Linked DNA regions of Homo sapiens. The protein of the gene in region 1 binds, or shares a complex with, the protein of each later gene. Each region holds a gene or a part of one and is shown on either strand. Other genes may lie near its edges. A codon is read from its position in the direction of its gene.

Region 1 (11,382 bases):
GATGGGCGAGATTAAACTTTCAAAGAGACTACTGGGACTGTCAAAGTTTAAAGCTGAAGGCCCCCCAGCTGCTTCTAACTTCATCTGCTTACAGGGAGCCGGCCCCTCTTCCTTCCCACTCCCTGTAGGCTTTGCTTTCTTTGGCATCGTTCTGTCTTCAAGACAAAGCAGTAAGGAAATGCAAACCTACCAAAAGAACAAAACACACATGGTTAGGTTTACAAGGAGTGCCAGCATTGGTGTTAGTGGATCGCGCGCACACACAACTGAATGACCATTACACCTTCGTGAGAACTCTTCATAGGTCAAAGCTACTTCCCCCAGGATAGGAGACAGCCTTAAGCCAATGCCATTTCTTCTAAGATATGATTCAAGCTCAACCACCACTCAGATGACATATTCATCTAAAGAAGAACGTGTTTTTCTTTTACACAAGCACTATGTCATGGTATTATTTATTAGGCAGTATAATTATCCCAAATAAACCTATTCAACTGTCTCAGCAGTTCCTACTCACAGGTTTAGCCTGTGGCCACTGACACAGCAAAGTCAAATATCTTGGATTTGGCTCCCATCAGCATCAGGGCCCACATCTAATTAGATGTACTCTGAGTTACAAACATTTGACTAGAGAAAAACTAACAGCCGCCCACTGCCAGGTGCTCCTCACCGCAGCACCACCCCAACTGTTGCGCAGGTCAATCAATGCGCCCTGGACCCGCGGTGTCTCCTGGTGGCTGGAGCAGGCCACTGCCTTCTCCTGTCTCCACTAACCACCTGAACCTGCTCACTTCCAACTCTGAGCTTATTCCTGAAAACGGCCACTTTTATCAGAAACTCCCCTTCGTTTAAAGAAATAAAGCCCCTAAAGGCTGAAAAGTGAAGGCTAAAAGTAGTTATATCTAAAGCCTTGAAAAAACTATAACTTTTTAACTGAAGATTTTAAATAATACCAATATCATTAGCCCCTAACACAGCACTTCTCCAACTTTAATGTGCACACAGATCACCTTAGCATCTCAATAAAATGCAGGATATGATCCACTAGCTCCAAGGTGAAGCCTGAGGTTCTGCATTTCTAACAGGCTCCCAGGTGATGCTTCTGCTGCTGACACTGCTGAGTAGTCGAAGCCACACAGCCAAGCCTTGCAAAGCTCCTTCAGAACTGCCTCCAAACCACAACTATTGATACTTAGAGGGTAGGTTTCCCTCATCTGTTTCCAAGAACTGTAATTCAAATTATTTAAATTTCCTGAGACTGCAAAATTCTATCTTAAAGTCCTTTCCCTCTGGGAAGGGACTCCATCACTTTCAACAGATTCTTAAGGAAGTCCCTATCTCCTGACAAGGTTAAGAACCACTGTACTTATAAAAACCAAAATTTCTGAAAGACTTGTTATTTATAAATGGTATAGTTTCCTACTTTGGTGAGTTATCAGAATTGCAAGAATACTGTTTTCTGTTCTTTTGTCATTATAACTAAGCAGTATTTCAGCTACACTGTAGACTAAGTGGAATTAATGTTCTGGCCTGGGAAGTAAGCATCCTGGAACGATGTGTTGCATACTGTGTGACGTGTTGCAACTTATAAAAGAAACTTTAGATTGAAACCCAGATGTAAACTGAACAAATTAAGAAAGGAAATGTCAAAATATAAAACCCTCTAAACAGCTCCATTCCTTCAAAAGACCAGGTGCTTTTGATAAGGAAACACAGGACATGGTGGAAGACTAACACAAACTGATACTACAGGAGAGGGGTAAAGCTTGAAGCTTAGAAAAAAAAAATAAACTTTAGTGTTTAGGATATGTGGTCAGTAAGACACATTTTCTGAAAATGTTTCCTTTAAGTGAAACAGACCAGCTTGAATTCTCCAGGAAAGAATTAAGGCTTCAGGAAGGCACAGCATTGCTAGTACATGGAACTCTCAAGTGATGGAGAAATACAAAGAGATAGAAAAATGGATTCGGGAAGGGGTACTGCTTATGCAGAAGACGTTCCATAGCAGGCCTGACTGCTATCCTTTGAAAGTGCAGCTTGTGGCCGATGTCTGAGAACTTAAGATTTTGGGAGAGTTTCCACCACCATTAACTGATAGGAGTGGCTCACCATGCCTAAAATGTACAATCATTACAGTTTATACCAACACCTGCTTTCCTCTGGGAGTCTGGAAACGTTGGTATGTGCCAGGCAGGGGTGGCCTAAGTGAAAAGCCCCCAGTAAAAGCCCTGGGCACTGAGTCTCTAACAAGCTTCGCAGGTTGGCAACATTTCACAAGTGTTGACACAACTAGTTGCTGGAGCAACTGAGCACAGCCAGTGTGACCGCTCGAAGACCCTTGGAGCCTTGCACTTGGTATCCCCAGAACTTCACCCATGTGCCTCTTCCCTTTGCTGACTGTGCTTGATATCTTTTCCCTGTAATAAATCAGCCGAGTCCTCCTAGCAAATTGCTGAACTAAAGATGGCCTTGGGGACCACAGCACATTGCTCACGTTTAATTTTTAAAAACTTAGATTGGTTTATTAGGTTTGTATTACTAAAGGCACCCTATAGAGTCATTTTATATTCAGCCACACATCTCTTATCTCTCACAATTGGTCAGTTTAAAATTCATTTAAGGGGAGAGAGCAGGAGGAAGATGCAAACGAAAAGCTTTTCTTTAAGCATAATATATGAATACAGTATAAGCACATTCACCAGAAAGTGTGGCTAATCAAAGAATGCAAAACACTTAAGCCAAAATAAAATCACTTAAAAGAATCTTTCCCATCTACAATCACTAACAAACCCCAATACTGTATAACAAATGCTTTCCTTAGAATATAAATTTCACTACCCATACTGCCAAAAGTTACATCATTTGTTTCTCTGTGTTCATGTTGAAATGATTTGAGGCTCAGTTAATTGGAGCCTAAGCTTAGAGGTTTCTGGGCAAATACATTATTTCTCTGATTCTCACACTACTCATACTGTAAGACAACCATTCCTCTTAACAGCTTTCTAGAGCAGAGGGGAGAATAGATGAAGCATCCTACCACATTAAACATACAAAAGTCTTAAGGTACATATCATAATTTCGGAAACAGCAAGAAGTAAAACACATATCTTAGAATCCAATACTATAGTAATTAAAGAAGACAATGCTTTGTCTAGAATAGTACAGCCAACACAACCTTGCCCATAAGCCTTAGAGACCACCCCAATAGGAGTAAATATTTCTGTAAAATCACAGAAAAGTTTTTGAAGAGCAATTGTTTTCCATTTGAGTTGACTATAAGCATTAAATGTAAAAAGACTAAAAGATTTACAGTTCATACTTTGGTGACTACCCCACAGATAAACCCTATAAGAAAATCAATGTTGACAACCATACTATAGGCAACAGACAGACAGTCACTATATTTTAAAGGTACCCTAACCTCCTTTTCTATAATATTTGAGGACATGAAGACGTGAGGAAGCTCTTGAAGGAAAGGATTTGTATATCCCCGGAAACAAGCACGGTGTGGTACATAGGAGGTCCTCAAGAAATGTCTGCTGAATTTTTCACATTTTCATCTTTTGTCTGTATACAATTTTGGAGACAAACCACAAAGGCCTTACACAAAACAGTTACGGAAAAAACAGATGGCCTGTGCAGAGGGGATTATTTTTCTGATTGCAGCTGTCACTTCAGGATTCAAGAGTATCGTAAAAGCTAAAAGGCACTTTAGACATCAGTAGTTATTACTAAATCGGGGAGGGAAGTATGAATTTCTACATCCCCTGGGCAGTTTTACAGAATGTAGTTCAGAGTTACCAGCAAGGTTGTTAGCATGCAAATTTCTGGGCCCTCATCAAGCCCACTGGATTGCCACTTCTGATGGCTGAGGCCCATAATCTGCATTAACGTAATACGCTCTCTAGATGAATTTTAGGTCCACTAATGGAGGACAACAGTCAAACGCAGCTCAGTTAAACACACGGCTGTCAGAAATTATATATTGCTTGTAACAAGGTTGCCCAGACTGATCTAAAACATTTCTTTTTGGCTCAGAGATATGTTAATCAATCCAGAGGGAAAACTGGTTCTCCTATTGACCTAAAGGAGTGATCAGCAGTTATCTTTTTAGTCTGATTTTAGAGAGGAAACGGACTATACCTCAATGTATTTTCGTGACCATGAGGTTACAAAGCTTGATGTCCAGGAGGCAAAAACCAGTACCAGCAGAAGAAGCTGAGTAAATCAGGTTCCTCTGCTCAAAGATGAGCCCAGTGACATGAAACCCGAGGCACCAGATTTACAGCTAATGAGTGGCGAAATCAGATCCTCTTCCTCCCAGTCTATCCTTCCTGAAAACAGTGAATAACCTGGTCTCAGTAACCTGTTGGACAACCCAGCTGTCGGCCAATCGTTGCGGAATTATTTGCTGGTAAATGAATTGGAAGCATATGATGTAATGCAGCTGCCCTTCTCCCCACACACCTGAACTTCAGATTTCACAGCTGTAGAGCGTGTCTCTTAGGCCCGACATGACGCCCGGCGGCGCAGCCCACGTGGAAGCCGTGCTCGCACAGGCAGTTCTGCCACCACCGGGCGGAGGCCGGCACCACCCTCCTTGCTAAGCCTCCAAACTTTCCGTGCGCTCGTCACCGGTGTCGCGACCATTAGCAGGCCACGTGTGCGACTCTCTGTAACCAAGGCTTCCGCGACCCTACCCCTAGATCCGGGCCCCACCCACCCTGCCCCAGTCTCCGGGGAGGTGGGACGCCTGGGAGCGCGTCCCAGGTCCCGCAACCACAGCGCCGGCCACCGAGGCTTCTCGCCGACCGACAGGTCTCCCAGACCCGCACCCGAGCCCGGGTGCCTAAAGCAGCAGCGCGCGCCCCGCGGGATCGGGCACTACCCGGCCTGCCCCGGCGCTGGGATGCCCACGAGAGCGCCCCACTCACCCGGCACGGCCTGTTGCTCGCGGCCGCGAGCCCACTGCGTTGCGGCGCAGCGGCTGGAGGCGGGGCAGCGTGGGCACGCTCCGGGCCGTGCTCCAGCCCCCGCCCCGCCCCGCCACGCCGGCCCGCAAGTGGTGGCAGCCCGGAGGCCTGGCTACCCGGCGGTGTTCCGCGTTCACGCCCGGGCGTTTCTTTAGTCCATATGGAAGGAAATAAATGGCCTTTTTTTTCCTCTTTTTTTTTTTTTTTTTTTTTTTTTTTTTTTTTTTATGGTATGTGAGACAAGGTCTCACTCTCGCCCAGGCTGGAGTGCAGTGGTAGCGATCTTGGCTCACTGCAACCTTTACCTCCCGGGCTCAAGCGATCCTCCTGCCTCGGCCTCCCAAAGTGCTGGATTATAGGTGTGAGCCACCCACCCGGCTCTCCTTTTTTTTCTTTTAACTTGGGGCGGCAGGAGAGGATTTGAGAGAGCGTTTTGGTGCAACTCCGTTCCTTTTATGAATAGAGAAGCAGGCCTGAAGAGGAATACCAGCGGTGCAAGTTTAGGGAGTTGGTGGTCCGGGTTCTCCCATGGCTTTCTTATGGGCTGTGTGGCTACACAATGCTGATTTGTACAAGCCGAGTGTCATTTATATCATCTCGCTCCGGGAGAGAGAGTCAATCCTAGTTTTAAAAGATACTGGAAATTCGTTGCGACTATGGCTATAGAAACAGAAGAAATGCAGTTATCTGAGTCCTTTCAGCCTAACACTCCCTGCTTTGGAACATTTGGTTCCAGTCAGGAGGCACAAATGAGGGAGCAGGGAAATCAGTGGCGGGCCTGTGCCTTTCTTTGCTCTGTAGACAGCCAGAGGACCCAGAGGAAGTCGACATTTCGTTCCGTCAAGGTGACTGAGACCAGTGGCTGCTTCTAAGGATCAAGTGGCACATGAACAAATGGGAACAAAGTACACCCTTGTCTAGTATTTGTCTAAAACTAACAATAATAGCAAGTCTTGAATTGAGTTCTTCCTGGCTATAAGGCACCACGCTAGGTGTTTCAAATACTCCTCACTTCATCCTCACTACAACCTTGCAATTACCTCCATTTTACAGTTGAGGAAACTGAGTCAGGAGAGGTTAACTAACTTGCACAAGATCACACAGCTAGGAAGATGCAGAAACAAGATTAGAGCCAAACCAGTCAGTCAACTGTTGGTCTTTTTCACGTTTTACTAATACTCGTATAACTAGTAAGTTTCCTGGCAGGTTCCAGTTGGAAAAACTCGAGGGTAACATCAAATTTAGCCCTTACAGGGTAAAAAAGAATAGTCAACAGCAAAAATCTCTAGTTGATATGATATTGGTAATGTACTTCGCTCTTTATTTTGACTGCAAGACATCTACTCAAGATAATATAGAATAATATTGCTGTTCCCGGGATTCAGATAAAGGTAAATTCTCACACGTCCACCACTTGGAAAAGCAGTACGGTTGTAGAAAAAAGTTATAATGTCAACACAAAATACCATTTTCTCAGCATATAAAATGGCCGCAGGATGTCTAACAGAACAAAAGTACATATGGAAGTCAGCTTTGCAGGGGGAAATCATACATCTTGTGTAGGAGTTCCTCTAATGCAAAATTAGTATATCAGTATGTTCTCTCTGATTTTTTTCATTATAATTCCGATTTCTTAGCATAGCAAGCAAAAAAGTCATGATAGTTCCATTTTCAGACCTAAACAGTGCCCATCATTCCTGTGAAGAAAAGGAGAAGGGGCCAGGTGCGGTAGCTCACGCCTATAATCCCAGGACTTTGGGAGGCTGACGCCGGTGGATCACCCGAGGTCAGGAGTTCAAGACCACCCTGGCCAACATGGTGAAACCCCCGTCTCTAACAAAAATACAAAAAAATTACTCAAGCATGGTGGTGCCTGCCTGTAATCCCAGCTACTCAGGAGGCTGAGGCAGGAGAATTGGTTGAACCAGGGAGGCGGGGTTGCAGTGAGCTGAGATTGCACCACTGCACTCCAGCTTGGGCAACAAGAGCAAAACTCTGTTTCGGAAAAGAAAAAGAAAAAGAGAAGGAAAGTTAGTTTGTGCTTGGGTGACAAGAGCGAAATTCCGTCTAAAGGAAGGAAAGAAGGAAGGGGCGGGGAGGGAGGGAGGAAGGGGGAGGGAGGGAAGGAGGTAGGGGAGGAAGTAAGGGTGTGGTGGGATGGTATGGGAGTGGAGAATGGCTTGCAACCTTGCCTGAGAGGAGGAAGAGGAGGTGAGGAAGTAAGGGTGGCATGGGATGGGAGTGGAGAATGGTCTGCAACCTTGCCTGGGAGGCTTCTAGAATATATGGCCTTCCTACATGTATTGTTTCTGGTATTTTTTTTTTTTTTGGAAAAGTTCTTCCAGAGGACAAGATGCAGACTGCTATCCAGTCCCCACCATAGGTTCATTTAAAAGTCAGTTATTTTGTTTCTGTAATTAATTTTCTCATGAAAACAATGTTGTAGATGGCAGCTCTCAAGATCTGTCCGGAAAAGTCTAGAAGCCTCCAGATTTCTAATCAACAGACTAGCGCTCCTCCTCTGTAACTGAGGAACAAGATGCCAAGGAGACAGGAGAAAGAAGAGAATTCCCTTCATGTCTCGGCCATAAACCCTGAAACAGACTTGTCCATGAGCCTTGTAAAATAAGTTACATTTCTGCAGAGGTGCTTGACGTTCACACCGTTTGGATTGCTTTATTAAAAGACTCTTTTTAGAGCCAAGTTTGTCTTCCTCTTCTGTGGTCTCCTAGGCTCTTCTTCCTGTAGAGCTTTTGGTTTTTAGCCACCTCATTGTGGCTGTGCACCTGTCCAGCCTGGGCATCAGGCTGCAAAAGTGCAACCCTGTCCTACTCCTACCTCCAGTCACAATGATGCTGGGTGCAAAAAAATCTAAAAATGGTGGTGTGTAAATGTACTTTTTATGGTTATTAGATCTAACTCTGGAGGGGCCAGGTATATGAATTTGGAAAACTCTCTTTGCTAACATTCACTTTCCTCATTTATAAAGTAAGATTGCACCAGATGTACTGTGATATCCCTATTGGCACTCAAATTCCATAGGCTTAAGGGTCTGTGCTCCAATTTTCAAAGGGCATTAGAAGAAGAATCAGTCTGATTGGAATTACCTTTCAGTCTATAAACATTGAAGAACTTATAAAATGATTAATATTTGTATTTTTGTTGTAAAGCTTTATTTTATAATGCTACTGTGTCATACGATTCCAGGAAACACACATTGCTTTAAACTATGTGAGTACTGCCCCCTATGTGTTTGTATTCACTTTGGTCCAGAAAATATCTAAACCATGTCTTTCTAGTATATGACTTTAATATTTATACCACTATATTGGGCTAACTTTTTAATATAAGGAAACAGACACATCAAGGTTAAGGAACTTGCTCAAAAATACATCATTTGATAGTCCATTTTTTTCATTTGGGCTGCTATAAGAAAATATCTAAGACTGGGTGGCTTATAAGCAACAAAAATGGACTTCTCACAGTTTTGGAGGCTTGTTCTCTGGTTCACAGAGGACACCTTCTAGCTGCATCCTCACGTGGTAGAAGTGGGAAGGCAATTCTGTGGGTCCTCTTTATAATCCCATTTATAAGGCTTTACCCGCGTGACATAATCTACTCCCAAAGGCCCCACCTTCCAATCACATTGGTGATTCTGTTTCAGTATATGAATCCAGGGTGGGGACAAACATTCAGACCATAGCACCCATACTGCCTATCAAGTAATATTCTTTGGACCTCTGTTTATGTTTCTCCAAAAGTGGTTAATTTCACCTAACTCGGAAAGATGCTGTGAGTTTCAGGTGAGGTGGAGTAAGCAAAAGAGTTTTAAAACTGTAAAATGCTATTGAGTGTGAGAGGCATTACTGTTAAATCCCATATGACATCTTGAACATGATTCCATGGAATGAATTAAATGCAGTTGGGCCTTTTATACATGCATACTTCACTTAATTTACACAATTCATCAAGCAGAGTACCTTCAAATTGATGTCATATCACCATGGGATAATCTTGGTGTCTTAGTACCTTCAGAAAAGTCAAATTTGTTTAACAATGACCCAGGCCGAGGTCTTTCAAGACTATAGTAGTTACGATACAGCTCATAGAACTCAACGTACTTAACTTGATAACAAGCATACCATCACCGTTTGGAATTATATTTTGCATATTTATAAAACTATGATTTAAACTCCTTGGGAGCAAGAAATGTGCTTCTTTAATTCTGAGAACTGCAACAGAGTTCTTCACAGAGTAGTTACTCTGTTTACAAAATTGAATTGGGTAAGCATTCCTATTTTCTTTTCTTGCTTAGAGTCCAATTTCTTTTACAGCCTGTGCCTATAGGAAAGTTGGTGTTAGGCTGCATGACTTTTCTTAAATGATTCTGCAGACCTCCTTTCTCCAGCAACCCAGCACTTGCAGGTGAAAATATGCCTCAGGATTTTCCAATGACTTTCCCTTACAGAGATGTTTTCTTACTTAACATGTTATCATAAATCTTGAAATTGACTTGCCCAATTCTTATAAAAATATGTACTCCTGCAGAGGTGCTTTCTGCTCATACTCTTTGGGTTGCTTTGTTAAAAGGTACACAAGCTCCTATTGAAAATGTTTCCTACAAGACTAACAGAATGTATATATGGGTCAGGAAGCCCCAATATTATGATGCAACATTAGTTTACTTATTTTCCTTTAAAATATCATAATGACCTAAAAATGACCAACTAAGGTGGTACTAGTCAGGTACTGATGGGTCTGTTAATGAAGTTTTTTAAAACTTTCAAAGAAGAGAAAAATATACCTCATATAAACTGGTTCTGAATATAGAAAAGGAAAATAACTGAAAAAGAAAATTACAGACAAATGTTATTTATAAACCTAGAGGCCCAACCTTTGGTGAAATAACCTCTGTGGGATTTTGACTTGAAATTTCAGTTGAATCCCCCAAACTGGAAACAATATTATTATTTTTTATTTGTTCAATACTTACCACTTTCCATTTTCCAGGCCCTTTTAAAAAACTGAGTACATAAACTTATTAATACACACAAAAATCTAAAAGGAAGATACTATAACTCTCCAAGTTTTACATGTGAGGAAACTGAGGAACCAGGAAACTAAGTTATTGGCCAAAGGTCCCAAAGATCCCACTGGGGTTGGAAAGTTCTTGTACCCCAGATATACGGCCCTGGGAATGTGGAGGCTGCTTCTCACCTGGAATATCCTGAAGAAGGAGTTGGCCGGTGACCTCATCATAGCACTCTGAGGCAAAAAGGCAGTGTGGAAGCAGCCTACTCTCACACAGATTGTCACATCAAGGACCACTGAGCATCTTCTGGGCTGAGTGGTTGCTGTGGAAAGTAGTTAGGCTTGGACAACCTGGAAGGTGACAAAGAGAGTGGCATAGTGGACCAGGAAGCAGTGGGGTCCATTGGCCCAGACAGGAAAAGAGACACAGGGTCTTAGGCAGTCTGTCAGAGATCTCAAGGTTAATTTCAATAAACCCAGTCTCACCTCCAGATCAACCTTCTCCTTGTCAACTAAAGAAAAAGCTAGACTTTCAAAGAATTAAATTAATTTCATTCAGAGTCTCACTGACAATTGCAACCAGGGAGAGCCTTTCAGAGTTCTGTTAGACTGTTCCAAAGCAGTGTTTCCACCCATAACTTATACATTAGGTGGTGGAGGTTCTGTGCATGTTCAGAAGTTACATCGAATGTACTCAGAAGTTACATTAGAGCAAAATCTCATCAAAGTTTGGGTGCAAGAGTACATCTGGTTACAAATCACAGAGGTATAATTATTAATCCTGTCAGATGTTATCTTATGGACAGGAAAAGGCAAAAGCTAGGATCATTGGACTTATCTTTTCTAAAAATGCAGTGATTTAGGCAAGAGATGTGGGAATCTGTGCTCGGTTCTGCTTCTCATCCTCAAGGCATTCTTCCGGAGGGCTGTGCTTGTCACTGAGTCAGGGGCTTCTGAAGGTAGGCTGACAGGCAGAATGAGCAACATTGCTTTTTCACAGCAAGGGCTATGTGGCTGGCCAGAAGCAGACATTTGTTACTTTATCTCACACCCTGCATCCCTTGAAAGCTTCAACATTTGAATAGCTGTCACCAGGGCCAGCTACATAATTTGTGGGACCTGTTGCAAAATGAAAATATAGAGCCCCTTTTCAAAAGAGTGCCATTAAAGGTATTAACATATAAAACCATTCCCTTCTTTTGTCTCTCTTTCTTTACTATCAGGGTGGTATCTTTTATTTGCTGCTAAGTGCCGTGCTCTACCCTGGTGCAGGAAGGTGAGTGCCGACATTCACAGGCACCCAGGGCCCTGCAGGGCCATTGGGTGCTGCTAAATTAAGAAAAAATATATATAAAATTGTAAAGGAAAGGAGACTTTA
Region 2 (11,327 bases), on another chromosome or scaffold:
ATTTTAATCTACACAATCCTCAGGTAGGCACTTTCACTGAAATTTTAAAGATGAGGAAATTAGGACTAAAAGTCACACAGGTATTGGGTGAAGACCAAATATTGAGTCTTTTAATTCATCATGAACTACTGACCACTTATTGTGGGATCCTTGGATTCAGGTTCCATATTACAAGTCCTCTATGGGCCCTAATGGAGAGCCCTTACTTTTTTTGGGGGGGGTGGACAGAGTTTCACTCTTGTTGCCCAAGCTGGAGTGCAATGGCACGATCTCGGCTCACAGCAACCTCCGCCTCCTGGAGATTCTCCTGGCTCAGCCTCCAAAGTAGCTGGGATTACAGGCATGTGCCACCACGCCTGGCTAATTTTGTGTATTTAGTAGAGACAAGGTTTCTCCAGGTTGGTCAGGCTGGTCTGGAGAGCCCTTATTTCTAACTTCTCCAGCACAACAGAAGATACAAGCCAAATGATACATTTGTTTAAAATTGTCCAGCTGAATCGAGGTTTCACTACTTGTAATTCTAGCCTATTCTTATGTAAGCCAATTCAGTGCTTCTCTGTGCCTTCTATTTGATCCCCAACATCCTCTAAAGGTTGTCCTGACAGATGTGTCCCATAGACAGCCATGGTTCTCGGCTTATTATGACCCCACAGTGCACTAAGGAAACCTCCACTAACTAAAACCCAGGAGTCTAAGTGCCATCTTATTTGTCTATAGTTTTAGACTGTATTATTTTGGGTCAAAAAAAGCTCAAAATCACAGGAAGAACCATAAAACTGTAGCAAATTATAATTTACCGAGATCTATGAGGATCTTATTTGTAAACATGAATTGGTCACCATCAGTTTTCCAATAGCAAGAGACACAAATCCTAGAAAAACTTATTTCAATTTCCAGCCTTCAGGATTTCCAAATTTTCCCGATACATTTCAGACTAGAAGAAAAATTAACTATTTCAAACCCACTTTGACATACAGAAAAGCCCTGGCATACTGAAATTTCAGATTGCTGGACCCCCATCTCGAGATTTTGATTCATCACATTCTGGATGTAACAATAATTTGGATCAAGATTAAGGAGCCATGGCCGGGCGCAGTGGCTCACACTATAATCCCAGAACTTTTGGAGGCCGATGTGGGCAGATCACTTGAGGTTAGGAGTTAGAGACCAGCATGGCCAACATGGTGAAACCCCATCTCTACTGAAAATACAAAAATTAGCTGGGCATGGTGGTGGGCGCCTGTAATCCCAGTTAGTCAGGAAGCTGAGGCAGGAGAATCGCTTAACCTGGGAGGCGGAGGCTGCAGTGAGCCGAGATCGTGCCACTGCACTCCAGCCTGGCAAGAGAGACTCCGTTTAAAAAAAAAAAAAAGATGAGGGGGCCACGTGGAAAAACCTTGGGCTGAGAACTTAAGTCCTAAAGGACCATCTCATTCCTATCACACTGCCCCTCTTTAGAATGTGACCCATCAAAATGGAATCTTTCCTTTTGAGCCCTGTTGAACAATTAGGGTACATTCTCTCATTCACTGTAAAATTCAGAGTACAATACATGCAGGCCTTTCAGTGATCAACAGGTATTATTCTGACTTTATAAACAGAAATGTTTAACTGGCCAACGTCTGTGTTGGTCTTACGTTTACCATATATTTGAGGGAAGTCAGGAGAGGACCCCATGTCTTCATACCCTAAGTACTAGAACCTGGGCTCCCAATGCACACAGGATGTAGAGGTGCCACTGAAGAACCTACACTCACACCACAAGGAAAAAGTAGTTAGCATTTAATGAAACTCCCTCCATGTGGCTTCAAGCCACCAGGACACAGGCCCCCCCAACACTCTTAATCTTCTCCTCAGCTCTTCTGCTGAAGAATTTGGCCTTCACGATGACAGGCTGCTTTGGGAGCTTTCCCTTTCCCAGAACTTTGTAGTAGCCCTAGAAGAACAGAGAAAAAAGTTTACAATACACTGTAGTAGGTACCAACTGCGTGATGGGCGTGAGGAAAGACTGCCAACCCACTTTCTAAATCCCTAGGCAGGGTATGTATGTTTCTGATCTGGGCACTAACGGGGGCACCGACTGCCCCCACCAGTGAATCAAGACCAGTAGATTCTCTTCGAGTACTCTAGCACACCAGGACAAGAGTTGTGTCAGGATGTGACTCTAGTCTCGGCAAAGCATAAGCCTCCTCCTGCTCAAATACCCCCTGCTAAGCAAAAGAAGACAACCACCTTCCTGACCACCAGAACTACTCAATGGACATTAAATAGGCTGGGAAGTGAATTTAAAGCGTCCCTAGGGTTCTGGCCTCTTAACACTACCTCTATATTCATGAGAGTTAAGACTGACACAGGGACCAGAACCCCCGCAAGGACAGACATAATACATCTGTTTTGGGGGAAAATCTCTTCAGATAATGCATGGCACTGAGTATCAATGGAACATATTAGGATTCTATTATCTGGAGAACATGAAGGGCCAAGAGCTGTGCTCAGTGAAAACCAGCTATAGTTCAAGCACGAAATGCAAACCTGATACAACCTGGGCAGTGACAGTAGGCACTGCTACGGATAGGGAACTACCTATGATAATTCTACCACAGGAAGAATATCAATGTCTGGTAGGTAACTGGGAAGTACAGATTATATAAGTGGATTAGATTAAGCCAGAGTTTTGTAAGGGAAGGTATGGAAGTACAGAAAAACATCCAATTAACTTACCGATCGCACCACATCAATGATGGGAGCAGCCCCAGTCTTGTTTTTAGCAGCATTCACCCGTGTCTGTTCACTGACCAAAGTCCACAATTTGTCAAGGTTGACAGTTGGGCAGAAGCTCTGGTTCCTCTTTAAGTGGTAATGCTTCATACCAACTTTCCCAAAGTAGCCTGGGTGGCTAGGAAGAGGTAACAACCACCTTCATACACACTCCAATTAAGATGCTATGTTTATCATCTTTATAGTTACCACCCCCTATTAGAGTGTAAATTATTCACTGGTGTAGAGCAGTGTCAGGCATATGATACATCTGTTGACTTAAACAACTGTTTTAAAAACCACCAAAGACTATCATGAGGAAAAGGCTAGTCTTATTTCCTGGAACCAGGATAAACCACCGACAATGTCAGAGGCAGGGCCGAGACTAAAATTCAAGTCACATAACAGCACTCTATGGAAAATCTACATACTCCTATAATAAACGTCTTCTGAATAGCCAAAATTTATCATCCACTAGTTTGTGGGTAGGTGAATGTGAAGCATGTCTCTAACCTGGTGACTGACTGTGCCATAAGGCCCACAGCCAGTGAATAAGGTCAGCAGTTACTCTTCGAGGACTCTAGCACACTCAGGCAATAGCCGATACCCAAGCGTGACTCTAGCCTCGATGACAGGTTCTCAGTTCACACCAAGTGTTAACTTGGTAAAAAACAGCAATAGGCAAGGCTTGCTTCTAAACTTTTTGTTTAAGCCAGCCCTCTCTCTGCCCCTACCTCCCAAGCTGTGTCAATAAAAGCAGTCCAAGGACACTTACTATTTGTCGAAGTTGATCCGGTGGTGATGCAGACCACCAGCATTACCGCGGCCGCCGGGGTGCTTCCGGTGCTTGCCTGCAGGAATACAAAGCTACGTGGGGCCGGTGTGATGGCTCATGCCTGTAATCCCAGCATTTTAGGAGGACGAGGGGGGGTAGATCACCTGAGGTCAGGAGTTCGAGACCAGCCTGGCCAACACGGAGAAACCCCCGACTCTACTAAAAATAGAAAAAGAATTAGCCGGGCGTCGTGGCGCACACCTGTAATATCAGCTACTCGGGAGGCTGAGGCAGGAGAATCGCTTGAGCCCGGCAGGCAGGGGTTGCAGTGAGCCGAGATTTCGCCACTGCACTCCAGCCTGGGCGACAGTGATCAGTCTCACACACACACAAAAAAGCTACATGCACCACACAGCCTTCTCATGCATCTCAATACTTCCTCGCACAAAAGCAGAGTGTTTCCCAGACTTCTGTGTCCCGCTTACGCTGTTCCCACCCTACCGATGCCGGTTTTCAGCAATGCGATTACTTTAGGATTCCGGGTGAAACATCTTTTCAGGTTCCACATCACAGCATTCCCACAGTACTCCATGTCTTCAACTAACCCAATACCGTGCCTGCTCAATTCCTATTACCCCACTGATGTGAAATTCCTTAGAACTGGAATACTAGAGGATCGTCAGAAAAAAATCAACAGCTGTGCAACTTGACCACAAAAAGGTCTTATTCTAACCCACTTATAGGCTACCGATCTCCAGACTAGCTAAGCACCCGAAGAGAGCCCAAGGCCCACCCCGAGGGGAAGCCGGCACTTACCTATGCGGCCGTGGCCGTGGCTCACGTGGCCCCTAAGTTTCCGGGTCTTCCTCAGTCTGGATGGCTGTGTGGAAAAAGCTTGGTGGTAAGGCCTAAGGAATTAGGGGCAGGGGGCGATGCCCGCCAGCCGAGATGGTCCTGTAAGCCTGTGGGTCAAAGACCTAACTTCTGGAGCGTTTGGGAAAGCTGAGGGTACCGATCCGCTCAGGGCCGTGAGGTCTCACCACGGTAGCGCAGGGGCCCGCGTGTCCTAGAGATCCGAACCGCGGGCCTAACACACGGCTCCGGGAGCCCCGCCCCGGGCCCGCGCCGGCCACCCTGCCCCGCAGGCGGCCATGCGCAGCCTGGAAGCCCCGACCATGGTAGGGAGTGGATGACTAGGGGCAATGGGAATACAGCTTAGGGGTCTCCGCCGGCAAGGAAGAGGAGGCAAGAAACGAAACACCTACCATGTTGGCAGCCCAGACGAAAAAGGAAGGCCTTCGCCAAGTCTCGCGAGGTATCGGCCACGGGGGCGGGGCAAAACGCCTCACTTCCGGTCACAGAGGCCGGGCTTCGGGCGGGGCCTCCTGGTCTCGCGGGATTGCGCGCCTGCTAGTCGCTTCCTCTTTCTGAGGGTGGTGATCCCCCATCACGGAGTGTCCTGGTGGCGGTGTACGGTTTCGGTGAGGCTCGTTGTGCTAGGCTCGGAGGGCGAGAACTGTTGAAGAATCGGGGCTAGGTGTGCTGTACTGCACGCCGCCCGTGCTTGCTTGAGCCAGGCCCTTTTCTGGCGCCTTGGTCAGGGAACCGCCTAAGCCGACCCTAAGGGCCTCGTTGTCTGAGCTCCTCACCAAATGCGCCAGCCCTGAGCCGCCCCGCGCACCTCCACAGTTCTTAGTGGTCTGCCCGGGGCTGGTGATAGTGGCTACTGGTTTGTCTCCCGGCCGCAGTGCGGAACCGCGAGGCCCTCTTTAATCCTCAGTGTGCCCACCTGGTGTCTCGCTCGGTTTCCTGAAGCTCGGGCGGCTCCCGAAATGCCTTCTCCCGCTCTCACACTTCTGAGTGGGCACTGCAGCTTCCTTTCTCTTTTGCCCTTTTGCTATCATTTGGTTGTCCTCTCAAGTTTGAGCAACTTAAATTGCTTCAGGGACTTAGATGCCTGGTTGCTTTATGGTCCTTTTAATGCAGATGTTGTAAATACTTTTTCTAAATGCCACATTTAGGCCAGGCGCGGTGGCTCACACCTGTAGTCCCAACACTTTGGGAGGTCGAGGCGGGAGGATTTCTTGAGGCGAGTAGTTCAACACCAGCCTGGGCAACATAGTGAGACCCTCGTCTCCACATACAAAAGTAAATAAGTAAAAATAAATGCTATTTTTGAATTTTCTCCAGAATCTACATAACACGCCTGTGACCCTTTCCTGGACACAATGCAGACAGTTGCTCGCTTCCCCACCTGTACCACCACACAATCTAGTATAACCCTTATGTAATTTATTGACCTACGTTTGTCTTCCCTACTAGACCTAATTCCTTATGTGGTCAAGGACTGTTTTTTTTAATCCACACTCAACTAGTGATTGTTGAGTGAATAAATGAACTTACCCTCACCTCCCTGTCTTCGCTAATAGCAGCATGTCTTCGCTCTTAAGTCGGTTCCTTCAACCAGTGTTCAAGATCCCATCCCCTCGCTAGTCTATTAATAGATCCCATGGGAAAAATGAAATAAATTTTTAAAATCCCATCCCCTCAGTTATTCTCTGTGTGTATGTGTGAGCGTGTATTTATTTATTTTTCTTTGTCTTGCCCCCTTCAGCTAAAATATATTTTAGCTAAAATATCCAAAATTCTGGCCGGGCGTGGTGGCTTACTTCTGTAATCCCAGCACTTTGGAAGGCCGAGGCGGGCGGATCACGAGGTCAGGAGATCGAGACCATCCTGGCTAACACGGTGAAACCCCGTCTCTACTAAAAATACAAAAAATTAGATGGGCGTGGTGGTGGGCGCCTGTAGTCCCAGCTACTCGGGAGGCTGAGGCAGGAGAATGGCGTGAACCCGGGAGGCGGAGCTTGTAGTGAACCGAGATCGCGCCACTGCACTGCAGCCTGGGCGACAGAACGAGACTCCGTCTCAAAAAAAAAAAAAAAAATTCCAAAATTCTCCCATGTCCTTGCCCTTACAGCCAAGCTCCCCAAAAGAGTAGTCTACAAATCCTGCCCATTTGCACCTTCCCATCCATTGTTCACTGCGGTCTAGCTCACAGCCTGTGACTTCAGTGAAATTGCTCTTACTAATGTCATTAATGAACGAATTGCCAAATTGGACTCTTCCTATTCTTCATATCACTTGTTCTTTCTGTTGTACTTTAATCTGTTGGCGTCTTTTTCTAGAAAAAGTCTTGCCTTCCTCCTACTCTTTGGTCACTTTTCAGTCTTCTTTTCAGGTTCTTCCATCCAGCGTTGTCCACCATTTGAATGTTGATGTTCCTCAGCCTTCTGTCCTTGTCCTTATCTTTTCACAGTACATGGTCTTCTTGGGTGGCTTCAATTCACATCCTTATTGCTGAGCTCCACACCCATATGGTCACTTAATTACTGGTTAGTATTCCTTGGACATTCTACAGACAAAGTAAACATATCCAAAGAACTCAATCTGCACTGCTCACTGGTGCCTTCTCCTTTATTCTCTGTCTTGGTGAGTGGCACCATTGTCCACCTAGATAATGAAAATTGTCCCCAAGCCTTCTCTTCTTCTACTACACTGTCACCCTATCCTTTTGTTTCTGTATCTCCCCAATGTGCTTCCTCTGTTTAAGCCTTAGTGCCCTGCCTTCATTCAGGCCCCCATCATATCTCTTAACTGGAGTTTACAACACCTTCCTTTGTTCACTCTGCCTGCATTCTAACCCTCCTCCAATTTCTGTATCCTTCACACCTCCACCACGTTAGTATTCCGAAAACATGACTTTCATTCTTTTACTTGATCAAAAAGTTCGGTAGCTCCTTATGACCAACAGAATATAGCCCACTTGCCTTTCCAGCCTTACCCCAGCCTCTCCCTTACACAAGCTTTCTACTGCAGCCGTGCCTGGTATATCCCATTTGCATTTTTGCCTTTGCTCATGCTGTTTCCCATCCCGGAGTGCCCATCCTCTTCCTGACCACATGTCCTGAATCTTCCTCAACCTTTAAGGCCAACTTTATATTCTGCTTCTTCCCAGAACACTTCAGTCCACAAGGATAACAACCAACATTTTCAGAGCACTTGGCAATTTACAAAATACATCTGCCTGAAGGTACAGCACTACCAGCCTCATTTTACGTGTGTGAAAACTGAAGCACAGAAGAATTGGGTGACTTGTCAGACGCTGCATAGGTGGTCAGGTACAGAGCCTGGGCCTAGCCTTTAGTCTTCTCTCTCCAGATCCCCTGCTTTTACCTCAGTGACCAGTCCCTCTCTGACCTTACAGCATTATGGTCTTCATCCCTCCATCAACCTTAATCACATACTGCATGTGACCAGCAGGAAGAGGGGTCTTGAGAATAGGAGGGGAGATCAAAGAAGACATCGTCGTCTATTTGACATCAAAACTGGCCAGTAAGTGCACAAGAAATGAGCTGGGTTACCTGGAACCTAACCTTGGGAAGATGATCTGTCAATGGAGGTAAGCTGGGCAGGGCCTTGGGAATGAAAGGGAACCATCAGTGGTATTAGAGCTGGGGCCTACAATAAGGACCACCACTGCAAGGGGTTGAGGTAGGGTTCTGGGTGCTAAGACACTCCTCTTGGATAGTTTGCCAGGTTCCTTGGTTATAGAGGAGCTACGTTCTGTCCCTCAGGTCACGCGGCTGAACAGAAGGCCTCCCAGAGTGGACCCAGCACTACCCGTTGGGTTCTGTGTTCACCTAACATTCTTCTCATCAATGGCTTGATCTGGTTGTAGAGGGAGTACCCTGGGTAGTTGTCTGGCTCAATCCAGTTTTCTATCCAGCTCCCTCTCCTTCAAAAGGCAACCACATGACTTAAACACACAGCTCATGTGGTGTTTGTTCAGTGTGTGTCACTTTTCCTAGGTTGACAGAGGTCTGAGAGAGCAGACAAAGCTGAGTTTTCTGTCTGCAAAGTGGAGTAGCAGCCAGATATTTGGCATTAGGGGACCTGTCCCTCCCAGCTAGGCACATGGGACATGACCTTTGGCCATGACTCCTGAGGGGTGTCCTTCTCTGTGACATCTCTTCTGAAGTACAGCATGGCTTTGTGACATCTCAGGCATCTGGGCTTCCTCAGAGTGTGAGGGCCTCAGAAAATACCTCAGAAATGAACGGAAGAGATGATACCAGACAGCAGCCTGGTGAGGCAGGCAAGTGTGCTGATTTTTTGCTGCCCCAGGCCTCTCTCCAGGTGGCCTTGGGAACACATCATCACCCTGAAGAAGGCCCTGGTGATCCCTCTTCCTTTCTCTCCTCACTGGGTTCCTGAATTCGACATCAGTCCTTCAGATAGCAGCAACATCCTGAATGAATCCAGCTCTGTTTTCTTGCTCTCCATCTTTAGATGTGGACATTTGGAAATATGTTCGTTTTCTTTTTTAAGTAGAGCACTGTTAATCAAGATGGGAAGAAGCAGTGTTTCTGCTTTTTTTCCAAGTGAGAATTAGAGAAAAGCTCAGAAATCCCAATTTACTTCAGAAAGACTTGAAAAATTATACGTAATAGACAGTACAACAGTAAAGAAAATTCTGAAAAAAATATAAGTATAAGCAACTCAAATCATTCCACCCTGTGATGCCATTTTCTTTTCTGAGTATTACCTTTCAACCCTTGTATACATGGAGACATAGCTGTCTGCAAAGTTAGTGATCATAGTATACAAATCCTTTTGTATTCTTTTTATTTAATACCATGGCAGTTTTTCGTATCACTACCCAGTCTTCATGATTATTTTTAACAGCTGAAGAATAATTTATTTTCAGCATGTGCTATCTTTTATTAAGCCACTTTCTTGTGTATTTTGTTTTTTTAAAAAATTCTTATTGTATTCTTTGCTGTTAGAGACAATGATGGAATGAGCATTTGTATATAATTTTTTCTTCTCCTGTTGAATAACTTGTCTAGGATAAATTCCCAGAAGTGAGACTGCTGGATTATATGGTATGAACATTTTTGTGATTCATTTTATGTTACTATGTATTTTTTCCAAAAGGATCGTACCAATTTATTCACCAGCAATATGTACAGTTTCCAGTTTCATTTTAACCTCCCTAGCCTTGGGGGTTTTTGTTTGCCTTTATCGGTAGTTTTTGATATATGGCATTTAGGGGAAATCCATAGGATCAGGCGAGGTTTTCTTCAGCACAAAGTAAAAATAATCTAATTGGAAGATTAGGAATTTTTAGGAGTCTTTCTTTCCTGTGTTGGATAGAGTGTTCTACATGGCAATTACATTCCTAAAGCTTTATTGGAAACTAGGGTGGAAAACCTTGTTGCCATTAAACTCAGAGTAACAAAACGTGAAAAGAGAAATTCTAGAGTCTTTGAGAACAGCTTATACAATAGCAGAAAAAAGGAGTTACATATTTGGGTTTTACTTTAATTTCAGAGGATAAAATTAATGGAAAGAACACAGAAAGTTGGGTTCATTTCCTAGTTCTGTTTTTTTTGTTGTTGTTTTTAAAGATAAGGTCTTGTATGTTGCCCAGGCTGGTCTCAAACTGCTAGCCTCAAGCAGCCCTCCTACCTCGCCCTCCCAAAGCACTGGGATTACAGGCATGACCATCACGCCCAGCCTCCTAGTTCTGTTTTTACTCACTGAATTATATTGAACAAATAGCATGTTCTCTTTGAATCTGTTTTCTTGTCTGTATAATGAAAAAATAATGAGATTCATTCATTCGTTTTATAAATATTAATTGAGTGTGTACTATGTTCCTATGCTAGGTGCCAGGCAAGTGAGGGGCAGGTACAATTGTGAACAAAAGTCCTTCCCTAAGACTATGTCTAAGACATACATTAAACAAGCAAACAAATAATATATCACATATAACACAGCCTAGCAAAGAGTAGGTACTCTCATTACCTACTATTTCTCGCTCACATTTTCTCCCTAAAATGAGTGTTATTTTTATGATAATTTGTTCTGTACCCTTCATGCAAACAATCTTTGAAATTCTTATTCCCAATGTGATGTGGAATGACTTGTTCCATCATTCCTTAGCAAGGTTAAGGTACTCCAGTAAATATTTTCCTTTTCTTAGATATAGATGTGGTAAGATGTTAAAAGGAGGTGGTTTGTGGCAAGGCAATGTTTTAAAATTTAACTTTTTGTTAACATTTTAAAATGTAAATAAAAATAATTTCCTGGGTTTTGGAAAACTAAGATTTGGAGACATTAGACCCACATTCTTTTAAGTAAAGCACTTCGTTCATATAGATTGCCCAGCCCCTGTAGGCATTTGAATTTACTACCTTGGCTTAAGTACAGTCTTGCAAACTCTGTCCCCTACACTCTTCTAGGTCAGGGGAGATAAGAAGGAGAGGGAAGAACTAAGTTATGATGAAAGCAGCCATAAGAAGGGGGCAGAAATGGGGTCATTTGACCCTTCGTCTTCTCAAATCAGAAACTCATTGTGTGGCTGTGCCTTTAAATTAACCATTTACTTTCATGGAGTTACTTCAATTGCTCTTCTAAGACATAAATGAGATGCCTGTTTCTTTATATTCTTACCCTGTGTAGTACTTGCTGGTGGTGGAAAGCCATGCTACCTCCCTGAATTCCCAGGATTGTGATGCAAGGTCTAATGCAGTAGTTCTCCAAGTGTGGTCTGTAGACCTTATGGGGTGGGGGGTCCCTGAGACCGTTTCAGGGAGTTCACAGGTCAAACAATTTTAATAATAAAGCTAACGTGTTATTTGATCTTTTCACTGGGTTGACATTTGCACTGATGGTGCCAAAGCAATGTTATGTAAAACTGCTGATGTTTTGGGCACCAAACTGGAAC

What was found.
Region 2: the proteins of RIOX2 (region 1) and RPL27A are in contact, whole or in part, in a crystal structure (PDB 4BXF), measured with the Homo sapiens proteins. Residues at the interface, in NP_001035998.1 of Homo sapiens: Arg98, Asn101, Gln136, His138, Gln139, Leu161, Val162, Gly163, Ser164, Asn165, Tyr167, Leu176, Pro177, His179, Asp181, Asp182, Val183, Val211, Thr255, Ser257, Thr258, Gln260, Asp333, His337, Met405, Met406, Gly407; in NP_000981.1 of Homo sapiens: Gly36 (codon at 3,570), Leu38 (codon at 3,564), His39 (codon at 3,561), His40 (codon at 3,558), His41 (codon at 3,555), Arg42 (codon at 3,552), Ile43 (codon at 3,549), Asn44 (codon at 3,546).

The regions. Positions count from the first base shown.
Region 1 is NC_000003.12:97,967,447-97,978,828, forward strand, and holds the start of RIOX2 (ribosomal oxygenase 2), read right to left. Parts: upstream 4,986-11,382; 5' UTR 4,935-4,985; exon of another isoform or gene 4,144-4,934; intron 187-4,143; 5' UTR 148-186; coding exon 1-147. UniProt on the Homo sapiens protein: Oxygenase that can act as both a histone lysine demethylase and a ribosomal histidine hydroxylase. Is involved in the demethylation of trimethylated 'Lys-9' on histone H3 (H3K9me3), leading to an increase in ribosomal RNA expression.
Region 2 is NC_000011.10:8,676,287-8,687,613, reverse strand, and holds the start of RPL27A (large ribosomal subunit protein uL15), read right to left. Parts: upstream 4,823-11,327; 5' UTR 4,801-4,822; coding exon 4,798-4,800; exon of another isoform or gene 4,413-4,797; coding exon 4,349-4,412; intron 3,609-4,348; coding exon 3,533-3,608; intron 3,388-3,532; exon of another isoform or gene 3,258-3,387; intron 2,897-3,257; coding exon 2,722-2,896; intron 2,176-2,721; exon of another isoform or gene 2,045-2,175; intron 1,937-2,044; coding exon 1,808-1,936; 3' UTR 1-1,807. UniProt on the Homo sapiens protein: Component of the large ribosomal subunit. The ribosome is a large ribonucleoprotein complex responsible for the synthesis of proteins in the cell.